Homo sapiens: one gene and its partner. The protein of the gene in region 1 purifies or fractionates together with the protein of each later gene. This does not show direct contact. Each region holds a gene or a part of one and is shown in the gene's direction. Other genes may lie near its edges. The genes, in order: A1CF and PSMG2.

The links.
Region 2: the proteins of A1CF (region 1) and PSMG2 purify together in Homo sapiens (affinity purification with mass spectrometry; 2 studies listed by BioGRID and IntAct, with this or other methods). This does not show direct contact.

What each region holds. Positions count from the first base shown.
Region 1 is NC_000010.11:50,816,071-50,819,899, reverse strand, and holds part of A1CF (APOBEC1 complementation factor), read left to right. Parts: intron 1-3,620; coding exon 3,621-3,829. UniProt on the Homo sapiens protein: Essential component of the apolipoprotein B mRNA editing enzyme complex which is responsible for the postranscriptional editing of a CAA codon for Gln to a UAA codon for stop in APOB mRNA.
Region 2 is NC_000018.10:12,719,934-12,723,361, forward strand, and holds part of PSMG2 (proteasome assembly chaperone 2), read left to right. Parts: intron 1-576; coding exon 577-750; intron 751-3,428. UniProt on the Homo sapiens protein: Chaperone protein which promotes assembly of the 20S proteasome as part of a heterodimer with PSMG1.

The sequences.
Region 1 (3,829 bases):
TAGGCAAGTAAATATCATAAAGAGAGATAAACGTGGTGAGCAAGTTCAAAGGAAGAAGTGGGCTATAAAGAATAAAACATCTTCATGGATATGAGAAGATAATATTTAAGAGAAGCCACGAAAATTGGGTATAATTTCAAAAATCAAAATATGGAAAGACAGGAAGTCTTAGAGGCACAGAATTTGAGAAGAGCAAGACAAGATTGGAGAACAGGAAAATGTGGAGTAACTTGGCTGGAACATAATGCACGTGGGACTGTGTTACCTATCGGATCTGGCATCGGTCAGGGTCCCAAAAGAAAACAAATAGCAAAGGAATTAATTACAAAAGTGCGAGTGGGGACTAGGGAAATCAAAAAAGAGTGTCAGAATTTGGGGCTCACAGCATTCTGGAGTCAAAGGTACAAGGGGCTGGAGAATTAATAGAAATCCTGAAAGGGGAGAGAATTGTGTAGAGCAGATCTCTTTGCAAGAAGTTGCTGGGTGCAGTGGCTCGCACCTGTAATCTCAGCACTTTGGGAGGCTGAGGTAGAAGGATTGCTTGAGCCCAGGAGTGCAAGACCAGCCTGGACAAGATGGCAAGACCTCATCTCTACAAAAAATTAGCCGAGCATGGTAGCATGGACTACTACAGTAGTCCCAGCTACTCCGGGGGCTGAGGTGGGAGGATCTCTTGATCCCAGGAGGCTGAGGCTGCAGTGATCTATGATTGTGCCTTTGCACTCCAGCCTGGGCAACAGAGTGAGACCCCACCATTAAGGAAAGAAAGAAAAGAGAAAAGAAAGAAGCAGTGATTTTGGTCAAAGGACACAGTCAGCCCAAGGTGACCTCTCAAAGACGGGTCCAGCAGAATAAATGCCCCGAATTCACTGTTGTCTCTTCTCCAACCTCCTACCAGTGTTCCCCATTGGCTAAATGCAATCACAATCTAGAAGGCTAAAGAGGACCCCATGTAGAACAGCTTCCCAGAGCAGAGAGCAGGCTGGAGCTGGTAGGTGGTGAATTCCATAGGCAGTGGATCCAGATGGCAAAGGGAGGATCTCTTAGCCTAGGCCCTTCAGACACTGTGGAGCCTCTTGCATATTAGCTCCTCAGGGGCCCACTCAAACTCAAAAAGTTTGAATACTGGAGGGTGGGGTGGAGAAAGTATTCACTCTGAAATACAAAAAAGAAAACTGCAAAGAAAAACTAATGCATAAATACATGTCTATAAAGAAAAGCATTATTTCATCTTCATTGATGATCACATTTAGTATCATAAAAGTGTTATTACTTGGAAAACAATTTGTAAGTTAGATTTTCTCTATATGGAAACATTCCTGAGTATACATGATGATTGCTGGGAAGGAACAGCCATCACAAATTAAATGCCAAAAATTACGTTGGAATAATTACAATTGAAACATATTCAAATTCCCAATTTTTGCAGCTAGATATTTTTAGAGTAATTATTTACACATATTATTTAGTTAAATATATATTTAATATTATATTTGACTATAATGTGGTATGGAAAAATCAAAAGTAAGTTTTCCTAGGAACTATGAAGGTTTTTGAGCATATATAGAGATATTTATATTTAATTTGTTAGATGAAGTGAGATCTTGAAATTTTTTCTACGATAATTATCACATTTACAATTTAGGAAAATTAGCCTAGTAAGAACTGACTTTTTAATACAGGTGAGAGAAACATGTCATAGAAACTAGTTATAAAGCTATTATAGTCAACCAAATGGGACAAAATAAAGTCTTGAACTTAGGTAGGAATGGAATGTAGGAGACAGCCATATGCAGAACAGTAAGGGATAAATTCAAAGGACGCAGGAACTGATTGGAGATGGGGTGAAAAAGAAGGACAAGTCATTATAAGCTTCCAATATGGTAGGTTGTTATGAAAGTCAGGAAGGGAAGCCTATTCAGAGAGAAAAATGATGAATTGAGCTTCAGAATGATTATTCATTTATTCTTTTTGTAAGTCTATGAAGTGAAAGAAATTTTACTAAGCTTGGGCTATACAGATTAATAAGATATTGTCCTAGCTCTGGAAATATCTAAACCAAATAACTAAAATACAATATTGAATTTAAAATGCTTTTGGATGGGACAAAGGAAGGCAGAACAAAATTTGTTACAAGATATCTGAATTTGCCGCAAAGAATCATTCCATGCAAAACATCTCTTGATATGGAAGTGCCTATAAGCAGAGACCTATTTGGGTCTCTCATCTTCCTCAAGACTGGACTGAAGATATAAAGAATCTTATACCCAAGTTCCTCCCCTATTTTCAGTATGCCAGGTCTACTTTTTCTAATTACATCAACATCAATATAAGATTGTTGAATATCAGCTGGATTCTGTCTGTCTCTCAGAGTATTCCATCTAACTTATTTGACACTGGCTCCTGCTACTAAAAAGTAAGGTAAATACATAATACTGGGGACAAATTGACCAAGAGGCTGAACAAAATGGTCAGGATGACCATGAAGCACAAGCTTTGTCCAGCAGACTTCAATAATCCAGGAACCACTGAGTCACTGTTGAAATCAGAGGGTAAGGGTGCACACTCAGCTGCTGTGAATGGGAATTTCTGTAGAAACACTTTACATAAAAGTGTTCTTTATATAAAACAGAGGATCTTCACATTCTTATTCAAAAACAAAGCCACAAATGCTTTCAGACAATACTTTGTTCCTTTGATAATAAATACATCAATCTATCAAGAATTTCTTGAGAGCCATCATTGTTTATTGTGTAGGCAAGCAATACATAGAAGTTAGTAGCACACGTAGATCTACATACATCCATTATCTTTGACATCTGGAGCTGTTTGCAGTCTCAGAATTTGTGTCAGAATTCTTAAGGACAGGTTTTAAGCAGTGCATGATCTGAGAACCTCAATACTACTCTCACTCCCAACTACTCCTGACCCCTGTCATCCCTGTTTATTAGCTCCCAACTGTTCAGCAGATCAAAAGGTGGCTTCACAAGGAAGAACCTGTGGCAGGCAATGCAACAGCCTCCCAGATTCCTCTTCCTTTGGTAGAGCCACAGTATGTCTCTCTTCTCCAGTGAAAACTTACTTGTGTGGCTGCTCTAAGGAGCAAGACAGTTAGCGGGCTATCAGCTGGAAGGGCCTGATTTGGCTGCCCATGCTAAATGCTAATAATTGATAAGATTTCTTTATTGGTTTCCTTTCACCTTCATCTTATTGTGCAAGGTAATGGAGATTTTATACCATCCATAACAAACCTAAATTGTCTTGTAGTTATATAATTATATAAATATGTAATTTAAAACACATATATGACCTAATAAAAATATTACATAACTTTCTGTCTCAGTGACTGTAACCAGATTGTAAATTTATAATGAATATGTCAATGGACACTGGCCAATATGTCACTGTCAAACCTGTTGGCATCTTATGCAACTTACCAACAAAATGGCTCAGAAAAAGTTCAACTGGCATACAAAACAAACCTATAAAATGACAAGATACAATCAATAAACCTACAGCAAATAGTCTAACACTTAGAAGGAGTCATGTTATTAGGGCTCAGCCACACTTGGTTATCTTCATATCATCTCGCGTTGATATTTCTTTGCTCTCTACAACAGGTGCTGGATGGTTCCCCCATTGAAGTCACCCTAGCAAAACCAGTGGACAAGGACAGTTATGTTAGGTATACCCGAGGCACAGGTGGAAGGGGCACCATGCTGCAAGGAGAGTATACCTACTCTTTGGGCCAAGTTTATGATCCCACCACAACCTACCTTGGAGCTCCTGTCTTCTATGCCCCCCAGACCTATGCAGCAATTCCCAGTCT
Region 2 (3,428 bases), on another chromosome or scaffold:
CTCGAACTCCTGACCTCAGGTGATTTGCCTGCCTGGGCCTCCCAAAGTGCTGGGATTACAGGCATGAGCCACCACGCCCGGCCCCAAGATGTAGCATTTAGATCATTTATTTTTTATTTTTTATTCTTTTGGGGATGGAGTCTCACTCTGTCACCCAGGCTGGAGTGCAGTGGCACAGTCTTGGCTCACTGTAACTGTTTTAGATGATGTAGATCATAACTTTTATCACTTAGACACCTATAAAACCAGGATGAAAAAATACCAACAAGCCAAGAGTTACCTTTCAAAATGAGCTAATTTCCAGGACTTTCACAAAAGACATTACAGGCTTCATGGCAGAAGGGAGGAAAGCTGTGGGAAATTTTTGCAATGGGCTTGCCTAAGTGTTTCTGTCTTTTTATATTGTCTCCTAAGTAAGTAAGTAAGTAGCAAATCAGAGCAATATTTTTTACTTAAGTCTGCTGAAACTTGTGTTTTGCCTGTGCAGCAGAATATATGGAGACCAAGAGAATTTTAGCTAAAGAACCGATGTTTGCTTTAGAGTTTTTAAAAAGTTAACTATATGATTATTTCTAGTACTCCCTTCCGGTACCTACTTACACCTTCCATGCAAAAAAGTGTTCAAAATAAAATAAAGAGCCTTAACTGGGAAGAAATGGAAAAAAGCCGGTGCATTCCTGAAATAGATGATTCCGAGTTTTGTATCCGCATTCCGGGAGGAGGTATCACAAAAACACTCTATGATGAAAGGTGAGTTTGTTTGCCTGTTCATTTGTTTCCCACTTTACTTAAAAATGAAATTAATGCAGTGAGCTGAGATCGTGCCACTGCACTCTAGCCTGGGTGACAGAGCAAGACTCTGTCTCAAACAAAAAACAACAACAAAAAAAACAAAATTAAGTCAGAGAATGTATTGGATTACTTACTGAAACTTTGAGAATATATTGCTAGGCCGGGCACGGTGGCTCACACTTGTAATCCTAGCGCTTTGGAAGGCCGAGGCAGGCGGATCACGAGGTCAGATCAATCAAGACCAGGAGATCGAGACCATCCTGGCTAATATGGTAAAAACCTGTATCTACTAAAAATACAAAAAATTAGCTGGGCGTGATGGTGGGCACCTGTAGTCCCAGCTACTCGGGAGGCCGAGGCAGGAGAATGGTGTGAACCCGAGAGGCGGAGTTTGCAGTGAGCCGAGATCGCGCCACTGCACTCCAGCCTGGGAGACAGCAAGACTCCGTCTCAAAAAGAAAAAAAGAAAATATATTTACAAAACTGGTACTATTGTAGAGCTCTTGCATTTAGGGGAAAGATTTAAACTTGGTTATAGAAGAACTGGTTTCTCAAAAGCCATATTTAATGCTTTTATTTTGTGTGACTTTTTAGGGATTCTAATACTTATTCTTTGCAACCTCTACACGCGCACTTTTTTTTAATTGTGGTAAAATATACATCGTGCAAAATTTACATTTATCACACATTTTAACTATATTTAAGCGTACAATCAAGTGCCATTAATTCACAGCATCTGCATCCATCAGCACTGTCTACTTCTAGAACTTTGTCGTCATACTAAATTAAAAAATCTGTACCCATAAATAATAACTCCCAACTTTATTTCTGTAAAATTGGTGTTGATGTTCCCATTTTCATTTCTTATTTTAATAATTTGAGTCTTTTCTTTTTTTTCCTAGTCAAGCTAGCTAAAGATTTGTCAGTTTTGTTTTTCTTTGAAGAACCAGTTTTGATTTTGCTGATTATTGTTTTTCTATTCTCTATTATTCTATTATTCTCTATTATTTCTCTCTTACCTAATCTTTATTTTTTTCCGCTAGCTTTGGATTTGATTTGCTTTTTTTTCTCTTTTCCAAGGTGTAAACTTAGGTTATTAATTTAAAAGTTTTTTTCTTTTTTACTGAATGTGTTTACAGCTGTAAATTTTCCTCTTAGTGCTGTTTTCACTGCATGCCCTGGGATTTGACATGTCGTGTTTTCATTTTCACTCATCTCAGTATTTTCTCATTTCCCTTGTGTTTTTGTTCCGTGTTCCTCTCTTGTCCCCCTTGCAAACACCTACCTCCTTTCTAAGAGTCAACTTACCCTTCACCTCCTGTCTGCAATCTTGCCTTTTCCTGTCTTCTAGACAAGGAAGTTGCGTCTGCACTCCCACTGCACTCCACCTCTTCTATACTTTGTTGCACTTACTTTACCAATCAATCCTCCTAAACTTTTGCTTCTGACCAAGACAGAGTAACTGATATCAGACTTGCCCTCCTGCCATAAAAATACTGGAACCTGACAATTTATGAAACAACTGTTTTCCAGACATTGGACTACAGGCAGCACATAGCTGTCATCCCTAAGAGAAGGCAAATTTTAAGTCTACAGTTGCCTGGCTTTCTGCTTGAGATACTTTCTGGACTGCAGCACAGGGAGCGGAACCCAAGCAGAGCTGAGTGGAGGAAATCAGTTAAGACTACAGGGAGGCCGAGGCAACTGGAAATACAGGGCAGAGAATCCGAGGGCAGGGGTGCTGCTCATCAGAGTCCAGGGGTCTGTTTCCTTGGGTCTGTCTTCTTGGGTATAGGGTGAAACTATGAGGACAGGCAAAGAACAGCTTCTGGTTAGCTATAAGCTTGCCCACAAAGTTAGCGGTGATAAACAGAAAGTATTATAAAAGTTAGACCTACTCAGCATCAAACATTCAGGAAATGCGGATTTTACCCTGAAGAAACAATATTTAAAATACTCAGTTGTATCAACCAGAATAAAATAGTTCCAAATAAAAAAGTAATAATAATAGTCATCCTCTGCCTTTCTTTTTAGCAGAAGACCAGAGGGTAATATTGAAATGATTATCCCACACTGTGTGACAAACTAATAAGAGGCGCGATAAGCTGAAGAGCATACCCCTGCGCTTTCCAAGTTAGAGCCTTGAAAATGCAAGCACAGCCTCGGAGCCAGCCTTCTCCAGGCGAGAGCCTTGCCTGAGGCCATCACAGCAGACGCATTTAGGAACTGGAATTTTCTGAGCCATCAGAGCTCATAGTGGTTCCATACAAAGATTGAGAGCCCCTAAGGTGTTTGAGAACCAAGTACTGGGCTAGGGTGAGTGAGGCTAACAGTTTCTACTTTGTAGTTTTTAGAGACAGAAACTAAAGTTAGCCTGGTATCATCTGAGACTTCCGAATGTATATATCAGAGTCTCCTCGGTGCCTTTCCTTCCTTAGAACTCGGCTCACTTTTATTTCTGTAGCTCTCTTCTCTGTCAGTCTCGTGCTTTCAAGTTTTGGCATGGCATTTTTCTCATAGTTCTTGGTTTTAGGGTGTTAGGAGTAATTTTTGCATTTATTGGCAAGCAGGAAACTTTTTGCCTTGGTGTATCTCCATCTCATCACTAGCTTGAGGCGTTTATAGTATGATAGGAG